Linked DNA regions of Homo sapiens: regions 1, 2 and 3 are each reported to be linked to region 4. The links are microRNA targets in miRTarBase. Many come from high-throughput screens and were not tested one by one. Region 4 holds a microRNA gene; each other region holds the end of a gene's coding sequence.
The links. The annotated mature microRNA hsa-miR-6886-3p reads UGCCCUUCUCUCCUCCUGCCU and lies in region 4 at 2,674-2,694, shown strand. An mRNA with a match to its seed (bases 2 to 7 or 8) in the 3' UTR can be bound and repressed. Matches are read on the target gene's strand: a 7mer-m8 pairs with bases 2 to 8, a 7mer-A1 pairs with bases 2 to 7 and ends in A, and an 8mer does both.

Region 1 (7,640 bases), not on the chromosome of region 4:
CCAATTCTCCTGCCTCAGCCTCCCAAGTAGCTGGGATTATAGGCGTGCGCCACCACATCTGGCTAATTTTTGTGTTTTTTAGTAGAGACAGGGTTTCCCCATGTTGGTCAGGCTGGTCTTGAATTCCTAACCTCGTGATATGTCCACCTCGGCCTCCCAAAGTGTTGGGATTACAGGCGTGAGCCACCACGCCCAGCTTACAGTTGTCTTTTAAATCAGATAAAAGAAGGAAAGAGTTATAAACAAAAAAATACACTTACACTTTTATAATTACATATATAGCTACCTCTAACAGTGCTCTTTATTTTTTCAAGTAGATTTGAGTTACCGTCTAGTATCCTTTCGCTTTGGCCTGAAGGACTCCCGTTGGTATTTTTTTGTAGAGCGGATCTACTAGTGTTAAATTGTCAGTTTTTGTTTATTTGGAATGTCTTAATTTTGCCTTCATTTTTGAAGGATAGCTTTGTCAAATATAGGATTCTTGGTTGACAGTCTTTTTCTTTCAGCACTTTGAATGTGTCATCTCTCTGCCTTCTGGCATCCATAGATTCTGACGAGAATTCAGCTATAAATTTTATTGAGGATTCCTTGTACATCTTGAATCTCTTCTCTCTTGCTGCTTTCAAAATTGTCTGTCTTTACTTGGTTTTCAACAGTTTGTAATATTTCTGGGTGTGAATCTCTCTCAGTTTATCCTACTTGGAGTTTAGGTTTTTAAAAATTGTATTTTATTTCTCTCCCCAAATTCCAAATATCAACAAGTCAGGATGACTACTTCTAAGTATATCCTAAATTCTTCCACTTTTTTTCTGTCTCCTCTGCTACTTCCCTAGTCCAAGCCATCATGACCTCTTACCTGGACTAGTACAGTAACCTCCTCACGAGTCTTCTCTATTTCCCTTTACAATGCTCTACAGTTTATTCTCCATCCACCAGGAAGAGTAGTGGGCTTACAATATTAATCACATTATCACACTCCTCTCCTTAAAACCTCCAGGCTTCCCATTTCATTGAGATCTCAACACAGGCTCTTTGTCATCTGATCCTACAATCTCTTCATCCCATCCACTCCTCTCCTCTCCTGTGAATGCAGCCAACCTGGCTATTTCTTCTCTTGAACATCCAAGCTCAGCTCTACCTTAGGGCCTTCACACTTCCTGTTCCCTCTGTCTGTGAGGTTCCACCCAAGATTGGTTCCCTCTCTTCATTTAGGTCCCAGCTTAAAGGTGACCCCAGAAAGTAGTTCCCCAGTGACTCCCTAACACATCACCAGCATTTTTCTTGTTTATATATTTGCCTTCTATCTACACTTCCCACTGAAATTAATCTCCATTTAAAAGGAGAACTTTGCTATGTTGCTCACCATTACATCTCGAGTGCCTGGAATAGTTGCTGACACAAAGTAGGTGCGCCAGATATTTGTTGACAGAATAAATGATAACATCTGTGCTCAAAAGGAAGTCATCTTTTCTTTCTGAGAGCTTCTGTATAAGGAGAGCTGATGTCAAAGCCCCCAGAGGCTGGGCAGGATCTTGGTCTGCCTTTCCTATTGGTGGAGACCTGGTCCCAGCCTGCCTTTGATTTAGCTGCATTTTATTACTTTTCAATTCATTAATCATTGATCATTTGGCTACCGTTTCCATGACAACCCTTAAGCAACCTGAATATTCCATCATCCAGGACAATCTCTACCCCACCCTTCTTGGAGAACCCAGTTTGCTATCAGTATCTTTCCAGCCTTGTACAAAAAATAAGTCTTGAGGCTGGGCGCAGTGGCTCACGCCTGTAATCTCAGCACTTTGGGAGGCCGAGATGGACGGATCACAAGGTCAGGAGATCGAGACCATCCTGGCTAACATGGTGAAACCCCATCTCTACTAAAAATACAAAAAATTAGTTGGGCGTGGTGGCGGGCACCTGTAGTCCCAGCTACTCGGGAGGCTGAGGCAGGAGAATGGCGTGAACCTGGGAGGTGGAGGTTGCAGTGAGCCGAGATCGCACCACTGCACTCCAGCCTGGGCGACAGAGCGAGACTCCGTCTCAAACAAACATACAAAAAGAGTCTTGAGTGGGGGAAACTGAGGCCACAGGTCTCCTTCACATGGGAGGATCAAGGCATAAGGAACTTGCTGGATTGCATAAATGATTCTTGTTTCTGCTTGTATGTCAGGAGGACCAAACTGCCAACAGGAGGACTGGTGTGCGGCTATGATATGGAGAGGTGGTTCTCTCATCTTCAGGTCAGATCAGCAAGGAGCAGTTTGATCCCATGTTGTGGGCTCAAAGCTCTTCCAGTTGCAGGGAGGAAGTTATCTGGCTCAGCAGCGTTTCCAAAGCCCTGATGCAAAGCGATGCTCTTGTGGGAGGCAGTGCCTGGGAAAAAAGTTGGGCTGGCTCAGCACCTGGCATGCATATGAAGTGAGGAAACCCCTCAGCACCTTTCAGGGGGAGATCTGAGTAGCTGGTGTTTCCAGCATGAAGGAGATTCAAAACAAACTGCTCTCCGCCTGGTCTCAGCACTTTTGAGTTTCAAAGGTCCCTGAGCAGGATATCTGGCCTCATTTCATGTTCTACCCAACACCAGTGGTATTTAGTTCTTGCCAAGTTATACTTCACAACATCAAAAATGGACTCCAGGAACCTCTGTGACCTGCCGGTCTTGGTTTTAGAGGTTATGGCTTCCATTTCAGCCTTGGTATCAAGTACATCTGGCATAAGTTGTCAGTTGGCTCCAAGATTAGGCTCTGCTCCGCAATTATAATAGAAATTGACATTGCTACTTGGAAAAGGCCGCAATTATAATAGAAATTGACATTGCTACTTGGAAAAGGGACAAACTAAGTTACATTCTGCAGCTACCAAGACAGAGTAAAACGACAAAAGTGGAAAGAGGTGGTGGTGGTGGGCGGTGGGGGGGATCTAATGCTTGTGAGACCATCAACGCACCAGCCAGGGCCAGGTGAGCACAGAGAGGCGGATCTGGGAGGACACAATGGCACTGGGCCCCTTGGAGTGAGCAGTGGAAGGGACAGAGCCCTCAGAGCCACAGGACGGCTTTGAGCCCAGCTCTATCCTCTATCGGCTGCATGATCCCAAAATAGCTTTAATTGTTGTGTATTCACCTGTAAAATGGGATTAGCTCATTCAGGGAGGATTCAATGAGATGTCTAAAGAACACCTACACAGAGTAGACGCTAAGCAGGTACCACACCTGGAAGGCGGCCGCAGGTCTTCTAGCTAAGCTGGCTCTCCTGGTTGAGAAGACAGGGGTGAGCTGGGGACAAGGAGCCTGGGCAGAGCCTGCCAGGCACCCACAGCCTGAGCCAGGCATTGAAATAGGAAGGATGGACAGCTGGACCACACCCTCCTCTAACCATCCTCAGCGCCCCCAAACCCACCAGAAGCAGGCTGCGGCAAACCAGAGACATCATCCTTCTGCCAGAAGTTGCAAAGCCCTACCCCTTCCCACCTTCAGCCCCAGAACATGAGGAAGACAAACACAGAAGCATCTTTCAGTGCACTTTAATCGAAATTCCATCATCAGAAGAGTTCTCGTAGCATACAATGTCAGGATGGGCATGTCGACTTGGTCCTACAAATGGAATATCCACAGATTTGCACTTCAAACATGTATGAAAAATAAAATATATAATATTTAGCTTTATAAATTTCCCCACTTAGTCACTTTATCTTTAAAATAAATTACTACTCCCGTCCAATACAGTGAGTAGCTTGGAGTCACTCAGACAATCTCTAGCCAAATGATCTCTGTTTTCTTGAGGAGTTCTGTAGGGAAATACTTGATGAAGACAGTCCAGTGCTTACAAGAATCAACATGAATTTAAAACGAGCACACTCTTCACAGTGGGGCGGAACATCAGAAAATGGGAGCCTTCTTCTAATGGCTGTTCTTTTCTGTTGGGAAAAAAAAAAAACAAATCCTCCAAACCACACCGGATGGTTGTAAAAAGCTGCAACGGAACCTTTGGCACCAGATGAGAAGAGAGGCCTTTTAATGCCATAGCTAGTGATGATTCAGTCAAAGCATCAGTCTAAGGAAGGATGATGGGGGAAGGGACCGGAGATCACAGCCCTTCTCCTTTCTGAGCCCCCCTCCCCCCCGATGTCCCCTTTCTGGAGACACAGACAGCCCCTCTGCTTTGGGGAAGGCGGGGCTTTGTCTGGGCAGGCTGGGCGTTCTTCAGACGGGAAGATTCACAATGTATAGAACACAAAGGGAGAGGCCCTTTTGCAGATCGGGGGGTAGCCGCTTGCTGCGAGCTTAGTCACCAGCGGGGATGCACTCAATGCACAAGGGACATGGCCACTCCAGCGGGACGGCTGCACAGCCATGAAAGGGGACAGACAGAAGGGGTGCACGGGACACCAAGGAACTGGAAGGCGGCAGGACTCAGGCTGCGATAGCATTTACAGGGGCTCTGAAGAGGGGCTGCTGGACCTGCCTCCACTTGCAGCAGGAAGGCAGATATCCACCCACTTGGGGCAGGTGTCTTGGGGGCATCTTCCCAGGGGACCCTGGCACTACTTCAAACAGCAACAGAATATTGGTAGGGAACAAACAAGCCAGTGACAGACACTGCCCCAGCCCTGGTCTTAGAGATTCCTGGGGAATGAGCTCTGGGAACCCTGAGCCCAGACTGACAAGAGTTTAAGTGGGGCAGTCTATGGCCCTGAACTTCCATGGCAACAGCCTGATCCCGGCCTCCTGGACAGAGGAGAAGGCGGCTACAAGTCAAGGAGACGCTCCTCACACGTCTCCACGGGCCACTTGGAGGCCCCTCCGAACACATCGACGTTATTGTCCACCCACGGGATGATGTTGCCCGGCATGTTTGTGGAGCAGTTGGCGATGTTGACAATTTCTTGTGCGCGAAGGACGCGGTCCCATATGTTGAACTGGCTGAGCTCCCCGACAAATGCCTGAGTGGCATCAAACCTACCCCCCACGGTGTCCTGGGGAATGGGAACAAGAGAGCTGCGTCAGGGCTGGTTCACAAGTCCCCCTGCACACGGGCTGCAGACAGGAGATTTGGGCATTTCTCTGATGCCCCCCAGCTCTGACCAACACTACCTGTTTCTGTAGGTTCTGAAGCTCCCAGGCATGTCAGAACTGGGAGGTGGCATCGCTCAAATCTCCCCATTTTATACAGGGGAAACTGAGGCTGGTAAGGGAAGACACTGCTCAAAGTCCCAAAGCCAGGATCAGAGCCAGGTCTCATGACTCCCAGCCCCTCCCAGCGGAGATGTAGCAGGGGAAATTGAGGGAGGAGTGGGCCAAGAAGGAACCAGACTCAAAGCCCCCCAGTGCACCTGGAGTCTACGCCCCACTGTCCATCATCAAAAACCCAAATACAGACTGGAATGCCAACACTTATCTGTCCTAGACCAGACAGCCAACTTAGCCATTCCCTCCCCTAGATGGTAAGTTTCTTGAGGGCACTTTGAGGTGCCACCCTTTCATCCCTGTCTCCCCCACAGGCTGAGCACCCACTATGGATTACCTAAGTGCCCCTTGCTGGGTATCAGGGTTAAGACCCTGAGCAGGGGGCTCCTGGAAGACACCAGCCCCACAATCCTGAGTTGGTACCATGAGCATCCCAGGAGGGTCCCTCACACAGCCTCCTCCCAGATGGAAGCTGGAGCCTGTGTCACGAGATGACCCATGACCACAGGGACACTCACACCCCTCTGTGCCAGGTTCTATTTGGAATCTGTTTGAACCACACACCCACCTGGTCCCTGCCATGCAGGCCGTGACCCCACGCCCAACCTCTAACCACAGGACAGCAAGGGCCAGGCTGCGGGGGTTCTCACTCCCCCGACCTGGCTGTCAGGACACTGTGGCCAGGTCTGAGGGGCCAACAGCTGGGGCCGGGAGCAGGAACAGCTGCAGGCCTGGCCTCGTGCTGCTCAGTTGGCCCCTCCTCGCACCATCCCTGAAAGGGCGCACGGCCACCCTGTGCCCATCCTGCACCCACCCTGTGCCCACCTGCACCTGCCCTGCACCCACCTGCTCTTGTCCAAGGATCAGCACGCCCCCGGGCTTGATGGGGTGCCAGGGGGCCAGGTTCTCCCCAGTGCCCAGCTTCTCTCCGTCCTGGAATGCCTCCCACATGCCATCCCGTGTCGTCCAGGTGACACAGATGTGGTGCCACTTGCCGTCACTGACAAACAGGGGCAGCTGCGCAACCTGTGAGCAGCAATGTGCAGGTAAGGACCTGCTGGGCCCACGCCCTCAGGGTCCCCCAGGGCAGGAAGCAGGAAGGACACCCCACAGTCCCCCTGGGCCACACTGCTCCTCCTGTCACCGGGGTCATGCGTGGAGAACATGCAAGGGGGCAGCCTTGGTGGAAACCCTGACCCCAGAGCAGCCCTCACATTAATGGGACACCCTTGGTGCCTGGCGTGGCTGAGGACCGAACAGATGTGAGGGTCAACACCCCCACGCTGGCCCTGAGCTCTCCATGCCAGAGAAACTCGGGAAGTCAGCGTTCCATGGGGCCAGTCTCCTTGGAAAACAGACGAGAGATCCTCATTCCTCATGCCAAGTCCCAAACCTCCATGATGGCACGCAGGGATCTGTGTGCTGCGGGTGTGCCCCGTCCTCCCTGCGCAGCGGCACGTGTGTGAGTATCTGTGTGAGCAGGGAACTCACGGACAGCGTGAGGAACTGGGGGGAGGACGCTGCCACTGGCCGGGTCCCTGGCGGTCCTGCAAGCACTTTCTATGCAGGCTCGCCTATGAACCACCGCGTTGTTGCTGCTGGTCTCCTAGCAACCCGAAGCCTCCCTCCCAGGAATTCGATGTTTACAAGCCGTCCAAACCCAGAGGACAACAAGGCTCTTAGCCCCACTGTGTCATAGGGTGTTATTTAGAACAATTATTTAACCCCTGGCTCAGGCAAGGGGGTCTATCTAGGAGGAGCCCAGCAGGCTGATGCCACAGCGTTTTTTAAACCTCGACAGACTCCACCCAGGGCAGTTCAGTGAGGACAAACAGAGTGAGGGGCTGAACTGCCCCCGCCTCCACCAGGGGTGGCCCGGGTGGCAGGGAGTTTGCGTAGCCACTCAAATGCCCAAATCCGGACAGGTTCTGAGAATGTTCTTTTTGTTATATGGAGTCTGCCATTAGAATGAAAGTTTGGAAGCAGGGCTGTGAGAGGTCCCCAGGAGGCCCAAAGTGGCCTTTTTTTTTTTTTTTTTTTTTTTGAGACAGGGTATCGCTCTGTCACCCAGGCTGGAGTACAGTGGTGCGATCATAGTTCATTGCAGCCTCGACATCCTGGGCTCAAAGCCATCTTCCTGCCTCAGCCTCCCGAGTAGCTGGAACTACAGGTGCACACCACCACACCTAGCTAACTTTCTAATTTTTTGTAGAGAAGGGGTCTTGCTATGTTGCCCAGGCTGCTCTTGAACTCCTGGGCTCAAGCAATCCTCCTGCCTCGGCCTCCCAACACACTGGGATTACAGGCATGAGCTACCATGCCCAGCCCTTGAGAAGACCACTCCTGAATGCCAAAACCAAGCAGTCTATTAAGAAGGGGCATTTGCTCTGGAAAAGGCAAGACCATGGGTATACATAACAGGTCAGCAATGGCCATGGGCTGGGGCTGGGATCAG
Region 2 (7,536 bases), not on the chromosome of region 4:
AAATTCCACAAGTCCAAACAGGCTGAAGAAGCGGGTGTTTTGCACCAGTTGCATGTAAGTTTCTGAAGCTGGAGCTTAGGGCTGCCTGATTTTTGAGGGAATTGCAAACTCTGTGAAGGGCCATAGCTTGTGGAAAGAGGATGAGCCTGGAGTCCACACTGACTGCTGTCTGCTGTACCCTGTCTCCTCCCCAGCACTGGCCATGGGCCTCTGTGTCGCCATGATCGCCTTTGTCCGCCTGCCGAGCCTCAAGGTCTCCTGCCTGCTTCTCTCAGGGCTTCTCATCTATGATGTCTTTTGGGTAAGCGTTTATGTCCTTGGAGCTCCTCCCCTTCTTTGTGTTGAAGTGAAGCATTCATGCCTGAAAACTATTAACTAGAAGTATCCAAAGTCGGGCTTGCCCAGCTGCTGATCACTCTCTCTCCAGTCCTTAACTGTATCATGGGTGTGCAGTCCGATCCTTTTGTTTGCTGAAAAGTCGTACAGTAGGTAGTGTGTGTGTGTGACTCCTAGGATAGAAGAGGTAACAGGCTGACAAGATTCGCTGCAGTGGGGGCCACCCCGTCAGGGAGTAATCTCTGGGTGTGGAGAGTGCAGAAATTGGCAAGTACACAGGAAGAGCAAAGATTTTCTCAAATCATACAGTCAACGAAAGCATTGCAGTCACAGCATTCTGAGACTCTGCTCTTAAGAGCAAGGAGGGCTGATGCTGAAAGCAGGTTGCTTCCAACTCCCTCTGTTAAAGGCATCTCTCCAACTCGGCAGGTATTTTTCTCAGCCTACATCTTCAATAGCAACGTCATGGTGAAGGTGGCCACTCAGCCGGCTGACAATCCCCTTGACGTTCTATCCCGGAAGCTCCACCTGGGGCCCAATGTTGGGCGTGATGTTCCTCGCCTGTCTCTGCCTGGAAAACTGGTCTTCCCAAGGTAAGACCTCATGCTATGACAGGACCACACTGTCTTCCTGTGCCTATCTGTTCCCGGCCTTGATCAGTCTCTAATGTCATCAGCATTCTGATCCCAACCTGGGGCCATTATCTCCATGCTGCAGAAGAGGAAATGAGGATGAGATTCTTGGCTTGCCAAGAAGGATCACTGAGTGATCCAGGCGGTGCCTTTTATTATTGATTAATGTCAGCAAACAGCCATGCCTTACTGCTGTTTCCACTGTTTAGAGTTGGCTGGAGGGAGTTAGGAGAATCTCGATCCTTTTAACTTGTAAGATATTTATAAAAATAAGTTCTAATGGTAGAATTATACAACTCCTGGTAATATAATCTTGGCAGAATGAATGTGCTGCTTTAATCTTCCACCTGTAATAGTAGCCAGGTGCTTATTTGAAGTCTCAACAGTGAATGTGTCACAAATGATGAATTGTTTGACATTTCTAGAGGAAGCAGCACTTATGCAAATCACTTCAGCAGTCACTTCCAAGGGGCTCTCCTGAAACAGGGGGGCCAAGGTGGAGACCTCTAGTGCCAGTACTGTTGCAGCTTTTTCTCTCTACACTCTTAAAACTAATGTTCCATCAGAAGAGATTTCCATCTGCCATGCAGATAAGCTCTTTGACTCCTTAAAAAGCTAACAAACTTTGCACAAAAGGAATAGAAACTGGATTGTAGAGTGTGACGTCACTAACCTGTGAAACTGCATTCCAGCTCCACTGGCAGCCACTTCTCCATGTTGGGCATCGGAGACATCGTTATGCCTGGTCTCCTACTATGCTTTGTCCTTCGCTATGACAACTACAAAAAGCAAGCCAGTGGGGACTCCTGTGGGGCCCCTGGACCTGCCAACATCTCCGGGCGCATGCAGAAGGTCTCCTACTTTCACTGCACCCTCATCGGATACTTTGTAGGTAAGAGAACCAGAGAGACTGCAGATGATCCTCGCTCTGGCTGTCCTCCAACCTTTGGAATTAAATCAGGTCTTCTAGCTACAGTTACTGGATGGAAGGAGAGCAGGAATTCTGGGTGCTGTAATAGACAGCCTGGCCCGTGAGATGCTAAGTGTTTTGTGTACTGGATAGGCCAGTTCCCTCTCCAGCTGTGTATCTGAAGAACGTTGTAGGAAAAGCAGGTCAGTCCTCAAAGCCAAGGACACACAGCACACAGTGCAGTGGATTAGTCTGTGCTTAAATCTTCCTCTAGAGTTGAATGACTGTCGTATTTATTTCCTACTTTATTCAATAGATACTTACTTACATTCATTAGTTCTACATTTCTGCCACTCTGACCTAGGCCAAGTTTTGTAGCCAGCTCATGTGTAGGCAGACAGGAGATGATTGTGATGGGGCTGGGAAAAGCAGTAACCTGCCCGCACATGCAACTGCTCCCGCACAGTGACTGGAAAGGAGCTTTTGCACTCCGTACGTCCTCCTCAACCCCAGCACTGTCCTCGTCCCACAGCAGTTCATTCACATGGGTTCATTTCAGTCCACAAACTCAGAGGGGCAAGGCAAGTGGCATTATCCCCATTAGACAGATGAGCAAGCTGAGGCTCAGAGAGGTGGAAGGTCTGAACTACATTTATGTTAGCTATTGTGAGTAGCAGAGTTGGAACTTGAACCCAGGTCTTCTGCCTCCCAAGTCCAGCATCACAGGAGACAGAGGCACACTTGGAGCTGGAAGGAGGGTTTGAACCCAGGAACCTGAGCAAGGAGTGAGACTTGGGTCAGTCATGTGTCCTTGGAGTTGTAGGTGTTTTTTAAAGCTGTGCTGATCCACATTTCTTCAACTGCCCAAGCTGGGCATTTCACACCCCAACCATAGAATGGACGACAGCACATTAGATCTGTACAGTTGCAGGACTTTGCCCAGCAGCAGCCAGGTGACACGGGTTCCCTCTCGTGTCTCACAGATGCCTCTCTCTCCTCACAGGCCTGCTCACTGCTACTGTGGCGTCTCGCATTCACCGGGCCGCCCAGCCCGCCCTTCTCTATTTGGTGCCATTTACTTTATTGCCACTCCTCACGATGGCCTATTTAAAGGTGAGAGCAGCAGTTATAAACCTGTGAAAGCAATAACTTGGATTGGCCTGTGCCTCGGTTTGCACTCTCCTCGCTGGAGGTGATTCTGCTTAAGCCCCTGAGTGAGCTTGTGATCTCGACTGTGTGTGTGTGTGTGTGTGTGTGTGTGTGTGTGTGTGTGTGCGCGCGCGCGCTACCCTGGCGTTAGCAAACGCTTCCAGATTCGTGCAGCCACTGACAGAAAATGCTGATGAGCTAGACCACTACACCACCTGGTCGAGGAATAACTAATTGAAAGCCCCAGAGCCCAGCTGAGGGTACTTCCTGCTTCTGTTCAAAGCAGTGCCCTCCTGCCACCTAACAGCTTAACACTACGTTAAAGTTTGGGAATAATTAAGATTGAATAGTGTTGAGGCAGCATATGATAAAACCAGAGTTCAAGAGCACATTATTTCCCAGATATCTATTCTCAGCCCCGTTTTACAGATGAGGAAGCAGATACAGAGGTCAACTTACTTGCCCAGCTCACTTGACTCACTACCTCTAGAGAGTTGATAAAAGCCCTTTTCTTGCTCAGGGAGCCTAAAAGCACCCCTTCTAGGGAGTCCTCCTAAAAATAGTGGGTTATTTTTGAATGGGTAAGATTTAAATGCTCTTTGGTTTCCCACAGAAGCAATCTGATCTCAGATCAAGCATCAGAAAGGGGCCAGGGGCATGGTGGCTCACGCCTGTAACCCCCGCACCTTGGGAGGCTGAGGCAGGCGGGTTAAGAGTTCAGGACCAGCCTGGCCAATATGGTGAAACCCTGTCTCTACTAAAAACACAAAAATGAACTGGGCATGGTGGTGAGTGCCTGTAATCCCAGCTACTCAGGAAGCTGAGGCAAGAGAATCGCTTGAACCCAGGAGTCGGAGGTTGCAGTGAGCTGAGATCTCGCCACTGCACTCACTCCAGCCTAGGTGACAGAGTGAGAACCCATCTCAAAAAAAAAAAATATCAGAAAGGGGCCAAGCGCAGCAGCTCATGCCTGTAATCCTAGCACTTTGGAAGGTCGAGGCAGGAGAATTGCCCGAGCCCAGGAGTTTGAGACCAGCCTGGCCAATATATAGGAAGACTTCATACCTGGAAAAAAAATTTTTTTTTTTTAAAGAATCAGACAGCTGTGTGTGCCTCATGTTTAAATCTGTAACTTAGAAAGTCCCTTGTTTCCCAGGGCGACCTCCGGCGGATGTGGTCTGAGCCTTTCCACTCCAAGTCCAGCAGCTCCCGATTCCTGGAAGTATGATGGATCACGTGGAAAGTGACCAGATGGCCGTCATAGTCCTTTTCTCTCAACTCATGGTTTGTTTCCTCTTAGAGCTGGCCTGGTACTCAGAAATGTACCTGTGTTTAAGGAACTGCCGTGTGACTGGATTTGGCATTTAAAGGGAGCTCGTTTGCAGGAGAGAGGTGCTGGAGCCCTGTTTGGTTCCTTCTCTTCCTGCGGATGTAGAGGTGGGGCCCCTTCCAAGAGGGACAGGCCTCTCCCCAGCGCGCCTTCCTCCCACGTTTTTATGGATCTGCACCAGACTGTTACCTTCTGGGGGAGATGGAGATTTGACTGTTTAAAAACTGAAAACAGCGAGGAGTCTTTCTAGAACTTTTGAACACTAAAAGGATGAAAAAAATTAGCAAACCGAAGTTTCTTCAATGACCCCTCGAGAACTTTGGGACCAGTTTCCTATAGGGGACTCAGTTTCAGAGAACTGAGACAGAAGCTCTTCTGTCGTTATATTCTTCTTTCCTTTTTTTGGATTTATTAAATATTTTCTGTGGTGTGAAGTGACTTATTAAATCCACAGACATTGAGTGACTTCTTACAACATCCACATAAGAATTTGTTGTAATGAGTTCATGTCCACCCAGATGTTGTGTTGGCAGTGAACAAGGGCACGGTTTTTATACATACGTACATATATATATATAAACACACACATAGATATATATGAATAAACAAAAATGAAATCCTGCTAAGATCACGCTGTGTAGCTGACAGGGGCTTGCTGTCGTTTTGAGCATGTCGAGCAGTTTACTGTGGCTTCCTTGTATATGGATAAGCTGCTGTCCTTCCCCTTCACAACTGACCCCGCAGTTACAAACTAGTATAGCATTTGTGCTGATTGATGATAGACTCATGGACTTCAGGAGCCCTTACTTGGTTTTGATCAGTGTAGCAAATTAGGGATGAAGAGTTCAAACCTTTTGGCCCTTTCTTTCTTTTCTAGGCTTCTCCCTCGCAGGGTGTTCCGTAGTTTCTTCTCGAGCCAATGCATGTATTATAGCAGCAGGTGTCTTTGTGCTTTCTCATCATAGTAACGTACTACTTGTAAATACATTTTTCTATTTTCTATTTTTTTGTATTTTTTTTTTTGACATTTTGTTTCATTGGTGTGCTGTATATTTTCCATGCCCTCACTCCTTTAAGAAAAAAAAAAAGGAAAAAAGCAACACAATCCTGTCCTTGCTGTTGTGATTATAGTCTTGGTTTACCTGTGGTGACAACCGGGTGTTGGGGACACATGTCAAATGCCCCTCTGAGATGGGCCCTAAATTCCAGTAACTGGGGAAAGAACCAGCTGCTGTGTCCTGAGAGCCTGGCCCTGTGCTGTGGTCTCTGCTGCAAGCCCAGATTTCTGGGAGTAACTAGTGTTAGGTCTGCTGACCTTTACCTAAGCAGCCCCTGCCTGGTAAGAAGGTGCCCATTGTTCAGAGGCAAAGAGAAGCCTGCGGTTGGCATGAGGATGCCTGACAACAAAGGCTGGAGAAGGGCCCTGAGTTCCAGCCTCTCCCCAAGGGTCCCCGCCCCAGTGGCTGCCTCTGTCTTGACCTGTGTAATGAATTAGTGTGCTGTGTCACTGTGGCTTGAAGTCACTGTGGATCGAGCTCACAGGGGGCACCCATCCTGTTGTCAACAGAGTCTGAAGCAGTCAGGGTGTTGGATTCCTCTGTTGTTGTCATCAATTCCTGCTGAGGGGTTTCTGGGGTTTTGTTTTTAATAAATGACTCCTTTGTAGCCTTTGTCACATAATCTTCACTTTGGTTGTTGGTACCAAACAGAGCTCCCAGCCATCTCCTCCCTGTTCTGGAAGACTGATGGGAAGACTCTGTCTGTCCCCAGACCTGGTCATCTGCAGCTCTGGCCCAGTCATAGATACATCAAAGAACTGAAGCTTCTGCTGTCCACAGAACTCAAAACTGCCTCTGCATTGGGTGAAGACTAAAAATCCACTTGCGGACTCTCCCTTCCTTCCTTCTCAGCCCTCGAGGATGCATATAGCTAATTAAGCAGGCCCAGAGACAGAGAGGGGGGCTCCAAAATGACTCGGATTAAGGGCAAGTGCCAGTGATGGGTAGAAATAACGTTATCCTTCATGCCTGTAATCCCAGCACTTTGGGAGGCCGAGGCAGGTGGATCACAAGGTTGGGAGCTCGAGACCAGCCTGGCCAACATGGTGAAACCCCGTCTCTACTAAAAACACAAAAATTAGCTGGGCATGGTGGCAGGCGCCTGTAATCCCAGCTATTTGGGAGGCTGAGGCAGAAGAATCGCTTGAACCTGGAAGGCGGAGGTTGCAGTGAGCAGAGATTGCGCCACTGCACTCAAGTCTGGGCGACAGGGTGAGACTCCATCTCAAAAAAAAAAAAAAAAAGGAAATGTTATCCTGGCAGTGGGTCATTTTAATTTTTCTGTCTTTGTTTTCATAAGAAAATTAAATTCCAGACAGAAGGAACGTCGTTATTTTGTCATTCTCACTTCTGTGCAGGTTTTGGGGGGAAATACCCACACAGGGCTGTGAATGCACCCTGGATTCCAGTTGCTAATCTTCAAAGCCCTTAAAACACTCCCTTAAAACTTTGGCAGAGAAACAGCAAATACTCTACTCGTCTCGGAGGGTTGAGTGGGTGGCTGCAGTTAAAGCACACATTAGACTTCCCTTCCAGTGCTCGTTTGCTCCCCGCTGCCTGATACACTTAGGTCCGCCTCTTATTCTGTTTTCTCAAATACCATGGTTTAGGGGTTTTCTAGGAAGTCTGCTGCATTAGGCATGGCATGCTCATGAAATTTCAGCAGATTCCTTCCTCACTGATCTGAAGTCCTTTTTCCTCACAAAGAGACTGTGTGTTACTAGAACTCCCGCTTTTTAATAACTCTTTTTTCTAGTTTGAGCTAATGAAGATATGACAGTAAAGTCTGTCCAAAGCCTAGTGTGTTCCATTGCTGTTATTACAGTGCATACGCTTTCTGAATGTGACAGTGACAGCTCCCCGCATAGGAACGGTTCGGTGGCTTGGGACTAAGCTACTGTCTGAATTACTTTTGTAGCAGGCTCACAGGCCTTGGGTAAACAGGTAAGTTAGGTCACCCACAAGAAAAACAAAAGTACTCGTTCTCTGTGAGGGTGGAGGGGAAGGGAGTTCCATTTTGCCAATCAAGTGTTAAAAATAGAACCTGCTGTGTCTGCTTAGCAGCTCTCACGTTACTGCTCACCAGATCCCATGTTGTGTGTACGTTTCTGTTTTGTAAAG
Region 3 (7,345 bases), not on the chromosome of region 4:
TCCCCACCTTTCCCCCCTTTCTATTCCACAAAACCGCCACTGTCATCATGGCCCGTTCTCAATGAGCCGCTGGGCACACCTCCCAGACGGGGTGGTGGCCGGGCAGAGGGGCTCCTCACTTCCCAGCAGGGGCGGCCGGGCAGAGGCGCCCCTCACCTCCTGGACGGGGCGGCTGGCCGGGCAGGGGGTTGACCCCCCCTACCTCCCTCCCGGACAGGGCGGCTGGCCAGGCAGAGGGGCTCCTCACTTCCCAGTAGGGGCGGCCGGGCAGAGGCGCCCCTCACCTCCCGGACGGGGCGGCTGGCCGGGTGGGGGGCTGACCCCCCCACCTCCCTCCCGGACGGGGCGGCTGGCCGGGCGGGGGGGCTGACCCCCCCACCTCCCTCCCGGACGGGGTGGCTGCCGGGCGGAGACGCTCCTCACTTCCCAGACGGGGTGGCTGCTGGGCGGAAGGGCTCCTCACTTCTCTGACGGGGCGGCTGCCGGGCGGAGGGGCTCCTCACTTCTCAGACGGGGCGGTTGCCAGGCAGAGGGTCTCCTCACTTCTCAGACGGGGCGGCTGGGCAGAGACGCTCCTCACCTCCCAGACGGGGCCGTGGCCGGGCAGAGGCGCTCCTCACATCCCAGACGGGGCGGCGGGGCAGAGGCGCTCCCCACATCTCAGACGATGGGCGGCCGGGCAGAGACGCTCCTCACTTCCTAGATGGGATGGCGGCCGGGAAGAGGCGCTCCTCACTTCCTAGATGGGATGGCCGCCGGGCAGAGACGCTCCTCACTTTCCAGACTGGGCAGCCAGGCAGAGGGGCTCCTCACATCCCAGACGATGGGCGGTAGAGTGGCCTCTTCTAAGTCAGTTTTGTGCCCATCTATTTTAAACAAAAATAAAACCAAAGTCATATATTAACAGGGGAACAGAAAAAGCCATTGACACAACTTCCATTATAAAATCAAACACACCAAGGCAGATACATTAGAAATGTTTAAGAACATCTTTGTACTTAAAATTTAAACTGTGAGACTGCCAGGTGTGGTGGTGGCTCACGTCTGTAATCCCAGCACTTTGGAAGGCCGAAGCAGGTAGGTCACTTGAGGTCAGGAGTTGGAGACCAGACTGGCCAACATGGTGAAACCCCATCTCTACTGAAAATACAAAATTAGCCGGGCAAGGTGGCACATGCCTGTAATCCCAGCTACTCAGGAGGCTGAGGCAGGAGCATCACTTGAACCCGGAAGGTGGAGGTTGTAGTGGGCCGAGATTGCGCCACTGCACTCCAGCCTGGACGACAGAGAGAGATTCGGTCTTAACAAAACAAAACAAAACAAAACACAAAACACAGGCTGGGAGCAGTGGCTCATGCCTGTAATCCCAGCACTTTGGGAGGCTGAGCTGGGTGGATCACGAGGTCAGGAGTTCGAGACCAGCCTGGCCAACATGGTGAAACCCTGTCTACACTAAAAATACAGAAAAAAAAAAAAAAAAAAAAAAACCTGGGCATGGTGGCACGTGTCTGTAAATCCCAGCTGCTCAGGAGGCTGAGGCAGAAGAATTGCTCAAACCCAGGAGGCAGAGGTTGCAGTAAGCCGAGATTGCACCATTGCACTCCAGCCAGGCGGCAGAGCAAGACTATCTCTCAAAAAAACAAACAAAACAAAAAACAAACACCGTAAGAGGCCGGGCACTGTGCTTCACGCCTATAATCTCAGCACTTTGGGTGGCCGAGGTGGGGCAGATCACCTGAAGTCAGGAGTTTGAGACCGGCCTTTCCAACAAAGTGAAACCCCAGCTCTACTAAAAATACAAAAATTAGCCAGGCGTGGTGGTGTGTGCCTGTGGTCCCAGCTACTCAGGAGGCTGAGGCAGGAGAATCGCTTAAACCTGGGAGGCAGAGGTTTCAGTACGACAAGATCGCACCACTGTACTCCAGCGTGGGTGACAGACTCTGTCTCAAAAAAACACTGTAAGATCTTATAGTCATGGGAAATTGCAGGTAATCCACAATATTTAATTACATATTTTATTTTTTGAAACTGATATTAAGCTATGATAATTGTAGCATTTCTAGTTTAGCAGCAATTGGAATATTCATTGCTTACGGATTTAATCACTGAATTAAATAGCAGAACAGTGCAGAATACTGTTCTATAGATTATTGTTTATGAGTTATTGCTAGTAAATGAAATTATTTAATTTTATATGTTAATATTAAGTGTAAGTATACACATACATAAATATACAGCTAATTACAATATTAATTTATATTAAGACATTTCATTTTTTTGATCATGGTAGAGCTATAATTAACAGCTTAAATGAAGGTAAGTTCCCCCACAAAAAGCTCAATGACTTGCATAATGACAAACTCTGAACAAGATGGAATGTTTTCAATTTTAACATAGTTTTATTAATATAGTAAATAAACAAAATTTAGCAAATATCAAATATTTAGTATCAAAGAAAATTTACCATAAAAAGAATACTTCTGAAATAGCAATGCATATTTTCGTTATACGCACCTTTAAGAAAGCAGTGATCTCAGAATGTCTACAAGTATTACTATTATTATTTTAATTTAAGAGTCTTTCAAAGGCCAAATTGTTGCGGTTTGTGGGGTTCTTTTTTCAGTCTCTAGTTTGAGGAATTTTCTGGAGTTATATTTTTCTTTTTTTTTTTTTCAATCTTGCCCTTAAATGCAATATATTTGTTTTCTTGATGAAAAGAATGCAATCTTAGTCCTTTGGAATTTTTTTTCTTTTTTAACCTGGAGAAGACTGTTCAATGCAGCTATCTTTCAGGTCACCTTTCCTAGCTTAGTAATGCCTCAAAAACCAAGGAGCATATGTCCATATCCTGATTTCTTACAGGTTTCACAGTTACCTGCTAGTGGAAGTGCTACAGAAGTCACGTTGTTAGTAAGATATCCAATAACCAAAGAGGCTTTTGTAATAGCCTTATTTTTACCCTTCACAATATTTATTGACATAAAAATCTGTAATCATACATTTGAGTACTATTTGCATAAGGAGGTTAACCTTTTAGTAATAATCACAAAGAGGTTAGTGTTTGTTATTCATTGACATAAGATGGTATTTCCAGCTGCACCTTCTGTTGGGTATCTCATAATTGGCATGAGCAGGAGTCCTCCAAAAAAGTGTTAAAGTTTCATAGTTTCACAAGATACAGAGAGCTTATCACAAGTTGTACATTTTCAATTAGTTTCTAAGGAAGATAGCATCATTAGTTTGTTAGTACTATTATGGTGCATGGTGTCTGTAGACATAATAATAAAGATAAAGATAATAATGTGTTATTGAACTTGCCTTCTACAGGGAGTAAAAAATCATTCTACAAATCAAAGTCAAAGGAGGCTGAGGAAAGCATTACAAAAACGAAAAAGGAGCTGGGCCCCCAGGTCTGCTAATTTAGGCCAATCTTTTTTTTTTTTTTGAGTCGGAGTCTTGCTCTGTCGCCCAGGCTGGAGTGCAATGGCGTGATCTCAGCTCACTGTAACCTCCGCCTCCTGGGTTCAAGCAATTCTCCTGCCTCAGCCTCCCAACTAGCTGGGATTACAGGCGCCCGCCACCATGCCGGGCTAATTTTTGTATTTTTAGTAGAGATAGGGTTTCACCATGTTGGCCAGGCTGGTCTCTTGGCCGGGCTTGTCTCGAACTCCTGACCTTGTGATCTGCCGCCTCGGCCTCCCAAAGTGCTAGGATTACAGGCATGAGTCACCGCGCCCAGCAGCCAATCTTCTACTTTAAAAAACAGTACAGGCTAAATTATCTGACTTGTTAGTACTTTACATAGTTATGTTGTTATGACTGTTCCAGAGTTAGTGAGAAATTGACAGTCTCCTAATGTTTTTAAACTATTCATTTTCCAAATGCTCTTTTTTTGTGACAATGACTGCCTATACCATCACTTAAACATTGATAATAATGGTAATAACAACATATGCTTTTAAAAGTTAATTTCCCCTTTAAAATTTGACATTACACTTTATTCTTCATGACAAAGGTATTCGGCAAAAAAGAATGGACCACTGAATTGAAAAAACTCCAAATTTGGTCATAAATGTTATTTGTATGTTTTAACAATTGAATGGACAATTTGTCAGCTTGCTTTTTATTGGTGGCAGAATGACACAGTTTATTTCCTGCACCCAAAGAATGAATCAAACTTTTTATGTTCCAAATTTTTGGTAAGATGATATAATAATCTCACAATTATTGAGAATAATGAAATAAATAATGTGAGGTTTTTTTTTAATTACAGCAGCAGTCATGTCAGTTCAAGTGAATAAAGAAGATTCAAAACCCAGACCAAATATGTTTTACATGCTTCTTTTGTAAACTTGCTAAAAATAATTGCTGTGGAGATGGATAATTCAAGGAATTCAAGGAAACTTTACAATGCCAAATTTCTTTCTCTAAGGAAATGAAATCTAGAATCCATTTAGTAAAATATTAAAAATATTCACTATTGCTGGGCATGGTGACTTACACCTGTAATCCTAGCACTTTGGGAGGCTGAGGCAGGTGGATAACCTGAGGTCAGGAGTTTGAGACCAGCCTGGCCAACATGGCAAAACCCTGTCTCTGCTAATGATACAAAAAAATTAACCGGGTGTGGTGGCACACACCTGTAGTCCCAGCTACTGGGGAAGCTGAGGCAGGAGAATAGCATGAAGCAGAGAGGCAGAAGTTGCAGTGAGCCAAGATCACACCACTGCACTCCAGCCTGGGCAACAGAGTGAGACTCCATCTCAAAAAAAAAAAAAATTCACTATTTATATTTGAATATTTTACTTTTTTTTCCTTATTTTTTCTTTCCCTCACAGATAGTTGAAGAGGTATATTCTTAACTTGGAATAATCAATGTTTTGATAGATCTATGCTTTGCAAGCATGTATAGGAAAAAAGAGAGGGGAAAATGAAAAAACTAAGGTATTATTTTATACTCTGGTATCTGCCAACTTTTAATCTTTGTAATTCAATTCCATTTATAATTCAACTGAAGGTGAATTCTTACATTGAGAAGAAGAAAATGAAATCAGGATAAAAGCAAGAACTTTGTTTTTGCATAAATATGCTAATGAAAAACTGGAGAAAAAAATTCCTGCCACCAATGGAATTACAGTTGGAAAATCCATCTAAGAAAGACAGTTAAACTTCTCACCTTCCAGAAATGAAGGTAAGTGCCTTTACTACTGAAGTACAATAAAATCCTGTTTTCACAATTTGTATTTTCTCCACAATTTTCACTCTTCCTCAGTCCTATTCATCTCTCACTGAGTCCCTCTTACCAAACATTTGAGAATTTCCCACAATTTACCCCCTACTTCTGCAGATACTTTCCATATCTTCTAGTGTTTCTTTCCTTCATCAGCTCCAAAGGTGAGTTAAATCAAGAGCTTGGGTAAAGAAGGCCAGCCTCTGAGAAGTCCAGGTGGAAGCAATGTGTCTTCAGAAGTAAAGTGCTCAAACCCAAGGAGAAAAAAATGGGATGGGAGATCCAGGAGGACTCCAGCATTATTTCAGCCCTGTCAAGTACTGTTACTATCTACTTTAATAGTAAAAGTAAAAGCAGGAGTGGCAGATGCTAGTCAGGCTGAAACAGTCCTGCAGCTTCTTGGAATCTATATACTTGAGAGAAGAGAACCGAACCCCACTCTCTCATGGGCTGCTGTAAACCACCCATACGTTTAGTTTCCTTTGTCAAATCTTGTTTTTTTGTTTTGTTTTGTTTTGTTTTGTTTAGAAACAGGGTCTCACTCTGTCACCAGGCTGGAGTGCAATGGTACAATCATAACTCACTGCAGCCTCCAACTCCTGGACTCAAGGGATCCTCCTGCCTCAGCCTCCAAAATTGCTGGGATTACAGGTGTGAGCCACTGTGCCCAGACAAATCTCACTTTTTAAGATAGGGAGAAAAGCTTTAGGAAGAAGTAAAAACTATTTGTAAAGATTATTCTGGCAGCAGAATCGCTATTTTCTTTCATTTTATTTTTCTCTTATTTGCTACATTTTATTTGAATCCCCAGTAAAAGATGATTTGATTGCATTGAGACAATATATACCTTCCTGTATGTATAGACCTTTTGTATGATTACCTTAAAGAAGGAAATATATGTCTGTGTGTGTGTGTCTATATATATATATAGACATATATGTATACTTTGTTTTTTATCCATTAGTTCATGTAAAACATGAACAAAATATAATGTTCTTTGTAAGCATATGCCAAGAAGGTAGTAAAAACTGTGATTTGTATTCTACACATTCCAAAACACCATATTGCAAATCTTCACAAAACATTCTGGGCTATGTCTATACAACTTAAACAAAGTGAACATACACACTATTTAGTGAATTTGGGTCTAACTATAAAATGGAATTTTCTCTTGCTTCAAAAATGCATACATACAGGTTGGCTGGTCCCAGATTCTTGAACAGCTAACATTCTATTTTGGTTTGGTGTTAGGTTGACTAAAACCCGGAGAGGCAGAGCTTGTTTTCCAGAGAAATCTCAGCACATTCTTGAGGCTGCCTGTTATTTTTATATTAATAATGATGTACGTAGTTGCTTCTAAAATTCTATCCAGCTTTTGAATTCTTAGGTTACTTAGATGATAAAAAGTCCCATGGATGCTATTTTTTGAGTGAAAAAGTAGCACTCCTCTAATCATTCGTTCAGTGACGTTCTCTAAAGGCAAGGCTTTCTGAGGATTTAGGTAGACAGAGGAGTATTCATGGTCAAATACAGGACCTCCTTATGGAAGTTAGCCTGAGCATGTACAAGATGGAACAAATTCAAAAAGCTTCTGTCATCTTCATCACGGTCTCCTATATGCCATACATAGTGGGGAAAAGAAAATGACAGTTAAAATGTTAAGTATATAATTTATTTTATTAATTAATTTAATTTTTGAGACACAGTCTCCCCCTGTTGCTTAGGCTGGAATGCAGTGGTGCCATCTCGGCTCACTGCAACCTCTGCCTCCTGGGTTCAAGCAATTCTCCTGCCTCAGCCTCCCGAGTAGCTGGGATTACAGGCATGTACCACCACACCTGGCTAATTTTTGTATTTTTAGTAGAGATGAGGTCTCTCCATGTTGGCCAGGCTGGTTTCAAACTCCTGACCTCAGGTGATCCACCCGCCTTATACGTATATAATTTATTTGAAACATAAGATGTTCTAATTTTCCCTAGTAATATTTATTTATTTATTATTATTTTTTGAGACAGCGTCTCCCTGTGTCGCCCAGGCTGGAGTGCAGTGGCACAATCTTGGCTCACTGCAAGCTCCACCTCCTGGGTTCAAGCGATTCTCCTGCCTCAGCCTCCC
Region 4 (4,000 bases):
CATGCCTCAGTTTCCCCATCTGTTAAGTGTGCTTGAAAGCAGTTAGGAGGGTTTCATGAGATTCCACCTGCATGGAAAACTATCATTGGCTGGCCAGAGTTTCTTGCCTCTGGGGATTAGTAATTAAGAAATTTCAGGCCGGGTGCGTAATCCCTGTAATCCCAACACCTTGGGACGCCGAGGCGGGCAGATCACCTGAGGTCGGGAGTTCCAGACCAGCCTGACCAACATGGAGAAACCCCGTCTCTACTAAAAATACAAAATTAGCCGGGCTTGGTGGTGCATGCCTATAATCCCAGCTACTCAGGAGGCTGAGGCAGGAGAATCACTTGAACCTGGGAGGTGGAGGTTGTGGTGAGCCAAGATCGTGCCATTGCACTCCAGCCTGGGCAACAAGAGTGAAACTCCATCCAAAAAAAAAAGAAAAGAAAAGAAAAAAAAGAAAAGAAATTTCAGCTGACACAGCTTCACACTCTTGGTTGGGTTCCCGTGGTGAATGATGAGGTCAGGTGATGACTGGGGATGACACCTGGCTGTTTCCTTGATTACATCTCCCGAGAGGCTGGGCTGTCTCCTGGCTGCCTTCGAAGGTGTGGGTTTTGGCCTGGGCCCCATCGCTCCGTCTCTAGCCATTGGGGAAGAGCCTCCCCACCAAGCCTCTTTCTCTCTCTTCCAGATATCGATGAGTGTCAGGATCCCGACACCTGCAGCCAGCTCTGCGTGAACCTGGAGGGTGGCTACAAGTGCCAGTGTGAGGAAGGCTTCCAGCTGGACCCCCACACGAAGGCCTGCAAGGCTGTGGGTGAGCACGGGAAGGCGGCGGGTGGGGGCGGCCTCACCCCTTGCAGGCAGCAGTGGTGGGGGAGTTTCATCCTCTGAACTTTGCACAGACTCATATCCCCTGACCGGGAGGCTGTTTGCTCCTGAGGGCTCTGGCAGGGGAGTCTGCCGCCCTGTTAGGACTTGGGCTTGCCAGGGGGATGCCTGCATATGTCCTAGTTTTTGGGAATATCCAGTTAACGGAACCCTCAGCCCTACTGGTGGAACAGGAACCGGCTTTCCTTTCAGGGACAACCTGGGGAGTGACTTCAAGGGGTTAAAGAAAAAAAATTAGCTGGGCATGGTGCCACACACCTGTGGTCCCAGCTACTCAGAAGGCTGAGGCGGGAGGATTGCTTGAGGGCAGGAGGATTGGTTGATCCTCCCACCTCAGCCTCCGGAGTAGCTGGGACCTCAGGTGCATGCCACTATGCCTGGCTAATTTTCTTTTTTCTTTTTTTTTTTTTTTCGAGACGGAGTCTCGCTCTGTTGCCCAGGCTGGAGTGCAGTGGCAGGATCTCGGCTCACTGCAAGCTCCGCCTCCCGGGTTCACGCCATTCTCCTGCCTCAGCCTCCCCAGTAGCTGGGACTACAGGAGCCCGCCACTGCACCAGGCCAATTTTTTTGTATTTTTAGTAGAGACGGGGTTTCACTGTGTTAGCCAGGATGGTCTCGATCTCCTGACTTCGTGATCCGCCCACCTCGGCCTTCCAAAGTGCTCGGATTACAGGCGTGAGCCACTGCGCCCAGCCGCTAATTTTCATATTTTTAGTAAAAACAGGGTTTCACCATGTTGGCCAGGCTAGTCTTGAACTCCTGAACCCAAGTGATCCTCCTGCCTTGGCCTCCCAAAGTGCTGGGATTACAGACACCACACCTGGCTATTATTATTTTTTAGAGACAGGGTGCTGCTCTATCTTCCAGCCTGTAGTGCAGTGCAGCCTCCATCATAGCTCGCTGCAGCCTTGACCTCCTGGGTTCACGTGATCGTCCCGCCTAAGCCTCTGGAGGAGCTGGGAGTACTGGCATGTGCCACCATGCCTGGTTAATTTTTTTTTTTTTTTTTTTGAGACAGAGTCTCATTCTGTCACCCAGGCTGGAGTGCGGTGGTGCGATCTTGGCTTACTGAAACCTCCACCTCCCAGGTTCCAGCAATTCTCCTGCCTCACCCTTCTGAGTAGCTGGGATTACAGGTTCCGGCTACCAAACCTGGCTAGTTTTTGTATGTTTAGTAGAGACAGGGTTTCACCATGTTGGTGAGGCTGGTCTCGATTCTCCCGCCTCAGCCTCCCAAAGTGCTGGGATTACAGGCTTGAGCCACCGTGCCTGGCTTTTTTTTTTTTTTTTTTTTTTGTGGCAATAAGGTCTCATTGTCTTGCCCAGGCTAGCCTTATGCTCCTAGCCTCAAGTGATCCTCCTCCCTCAGCCTCCCAAAGTGCTGGGATTACAGGTGGGCGCCACTGTGCCTGTTCCCGTTGGGAGGTCTTTTCCACCCTCTTTTTCTGGGTGCCTCCTCTGGCTCAGCCGCACCCTGCAGGATGACACAAGGGGATGGGGAGGCACTCTTGGTTCCATCGACGGGTCCCCTCTGACCCCCTGACCTCGCTCCCCGGACCCCCAGGCTCCATCGCCTACCTCTTCTTCACCAACCGGCACGAGGTCAGGAAGATGACGCTGGACCGGAGCGAGTACACCAGCCTCATCCCCAACCTGAGGAACGTGGTCGCTCTGGACACGGAGGTGGCCAGCAATAGAATCTACTGGTCTGACCTGTCCCAGAGAATGATCTGCAGGTGAGCGTCGCCCCTGCCTGCAGCCTTGGCCCGCAGGTGAGATGAGGGCTCCTGGCGCTGATGCCCTTCTCTCCTCCTGCCTCAGCACCCAGCTTGACAGAGCCCACGGCGTCTCTTCCTATGACACCGTCATCAGCAGAGACATCCAGGCCCCCGACGGGCTGGCTGTGGACTGGATCCACAGCAACATCTACTGGACCGACTCTGTCCTGGGCACTGTCTCTGTTGCGGATACCAAGGGCGTGAAGAGGAAAACGTTATTCAGGGAGAACGGCTCCAAGCCAAGGGCCATCGTGGTGGATCCTGTTCATGGGTGCGTATCCACGACGCTGAGGGCTGCAGAGGGAATGGAGGGAGCAGGAAGGAGCTTCAGGAACTGGTTAGTGGGCTGGGCATGGTGGCTCAAAGCACCTGTAATCCCAGCACTTTGGGAGGCCAAGGTGGGTGGATCATCAAGACCAGCCTGACCAACATGGTGAAACCTCGTCTCTACTAAAAATACAAAAATTAGCCGGGTGTGGTGGTGGGCACCTGTAATCCCAGCTGCTCGGGAGGCTGAGGCAGGAGAATCACTTGAACCTGGGAGATGGAGGTTGCAGTGAGCCAAGACAGCCCCACTGCACTCCAGCCTGGGTGACAGAGTGAGACTCCGTCTCAAAAAAAAAAAAAAAAACTAAACAAAAAACTGGTTAGTGGCTAGACAACAGGATGGTATCTTCCAAGCCCATGGCTGACTCAGCAGCTCCTGGGTCAAGACACTGTGACCTGTGTCCCCTGGCAGGAAGCATCGCCCCTGCCACCTGCCCGGTGTACTCTGTACCTGTCAGGTGACATCTGCTACCTAAGCACGTGAGAGGTGGCATTTCACAGTTTCAGTGTGGTGCTGACAACCCGGGACGCACACTGTCCTTGCAGCTACAATCAGGAGGTGAATGTTGGGTTTCCAGCAGAGAACACTGGAGAAGGCACACTTGGTGTCTGGAAGGGAAAAGCAGGGAAGAGAGCATCATCAGATGCCTGCGGGTGAAGGTGGGCCCGCTATGGCCAGCGTCCCTTTTTATTTTTATTTATTTATTTATTTGAGATGGAATCTCGCTCTGTCGCCCAGACTGTAGTGCAGTGGTGCGATCACGGCTCACTGCAAGCTCCGCCTCACAGGTTCACGCCATTCTCCTGCCTCAGCCTCCCGAGTAGCTGGGACTACAGGCACCCGCCACCACGCCCGGTTAATTTTTTGCATTTTTATTAGAGACGGGGTTTCACCGCGTTAGCCAGGATGGTCTAAATCTCCTGACCCTGTGATCCACCCGCCTCGGCCTCCCTAAGTGCTTGGATTACAAGCGTGAGCCACCACGCCCGGCCCCCTTTTTATTTTTTATTTTTTGAGA

Region 1: the mRNA of NPTX2 is a reported target of hsa-miR-6886-3p. Seed matches in the 3' UTR shown: 7mer-m8 at 4,091-4,097.
Region 2: miRTarBase lists SPPL3 as a target of hsa-miR-6886-3p. Seed matches in the 3' UTR shown: 7mer-A1 at 4,896-4,902, 7mer-m8 at 5,773-5,779 and 7mer-A1 at 6,339-6,345.
Region 3: miRTarBase lists FBXO47 as a target of hsa-miR-6886-3p. The part of its 3' UTR that is shown has no 7-base or 8-base seed match.

What each region holds. Positions count from the first base shown.
Region 1 is chr7:98,625,736-98,633,375 of GRCh38, reverse strand. It overlaps NPTX2 (neuronal pentraxin 2), which reads right to left. Exons shown (of 5, transcript NM_002523.3): 4 at 6,032-6,211; 5 at 3,507-4,974. The coding sequence ends at 4,747. Among named protein-coding and RNA genes, the nearest start is that of NPTX2, 12 kb to the right of the region's middle. RefSeq lists enhancers at 3,832-4,445, 6,534-7,040.
Region 2 is chr12:120,761,718-120,769,253 of GRCh38, reverse strand. SPPL3 (signal peptide peptidase like 3) reads left to right here. Exons shown (of 11, transcript NM_139015.5): 7 at 195-301; 8 at 766-929; 9 at 1,661-1,860; 10 at 2,882-2,991; 11 at 4,184-6,744. The coding sequence ends at 4,255. Among named protein-coding and RNA genes, the nearest start is that of ACADS, 40 kb to the right of the region's middle. RefSeq lists a silencer at 5,993-6,156.
Region 3 is chr17:38,930,448-38,937,792 of GRCh38, forward strand. It overlaps FBXO47 (F-box protein 47), which reads right to left. Exons shown (of 11, transcript NM_001008777.3): 11 at 5,985-6,843. The coding sequence ends at 6,728. Among named protein-coding and RNA genes, the nearest start is that of LASP1NB, 8.5 kb to the left of the region's middle. RefSeq lists an enhancer at 1-338.
Region 4 is chr19:11,110,838-11,114,837 of GRCh38, forward strand. MIR6886 (microRNA 6886) reads left to right here and starts at 2,637; the gene lies at 2,637-2,697. It overlaps LDLR (low density lipoprotein receptor), which reads left to right. Exons shown (of 18, transcript NM_000527.5): 8 at 677-802; 9 at 2,441-2,612; 10 at 2,698-2,925.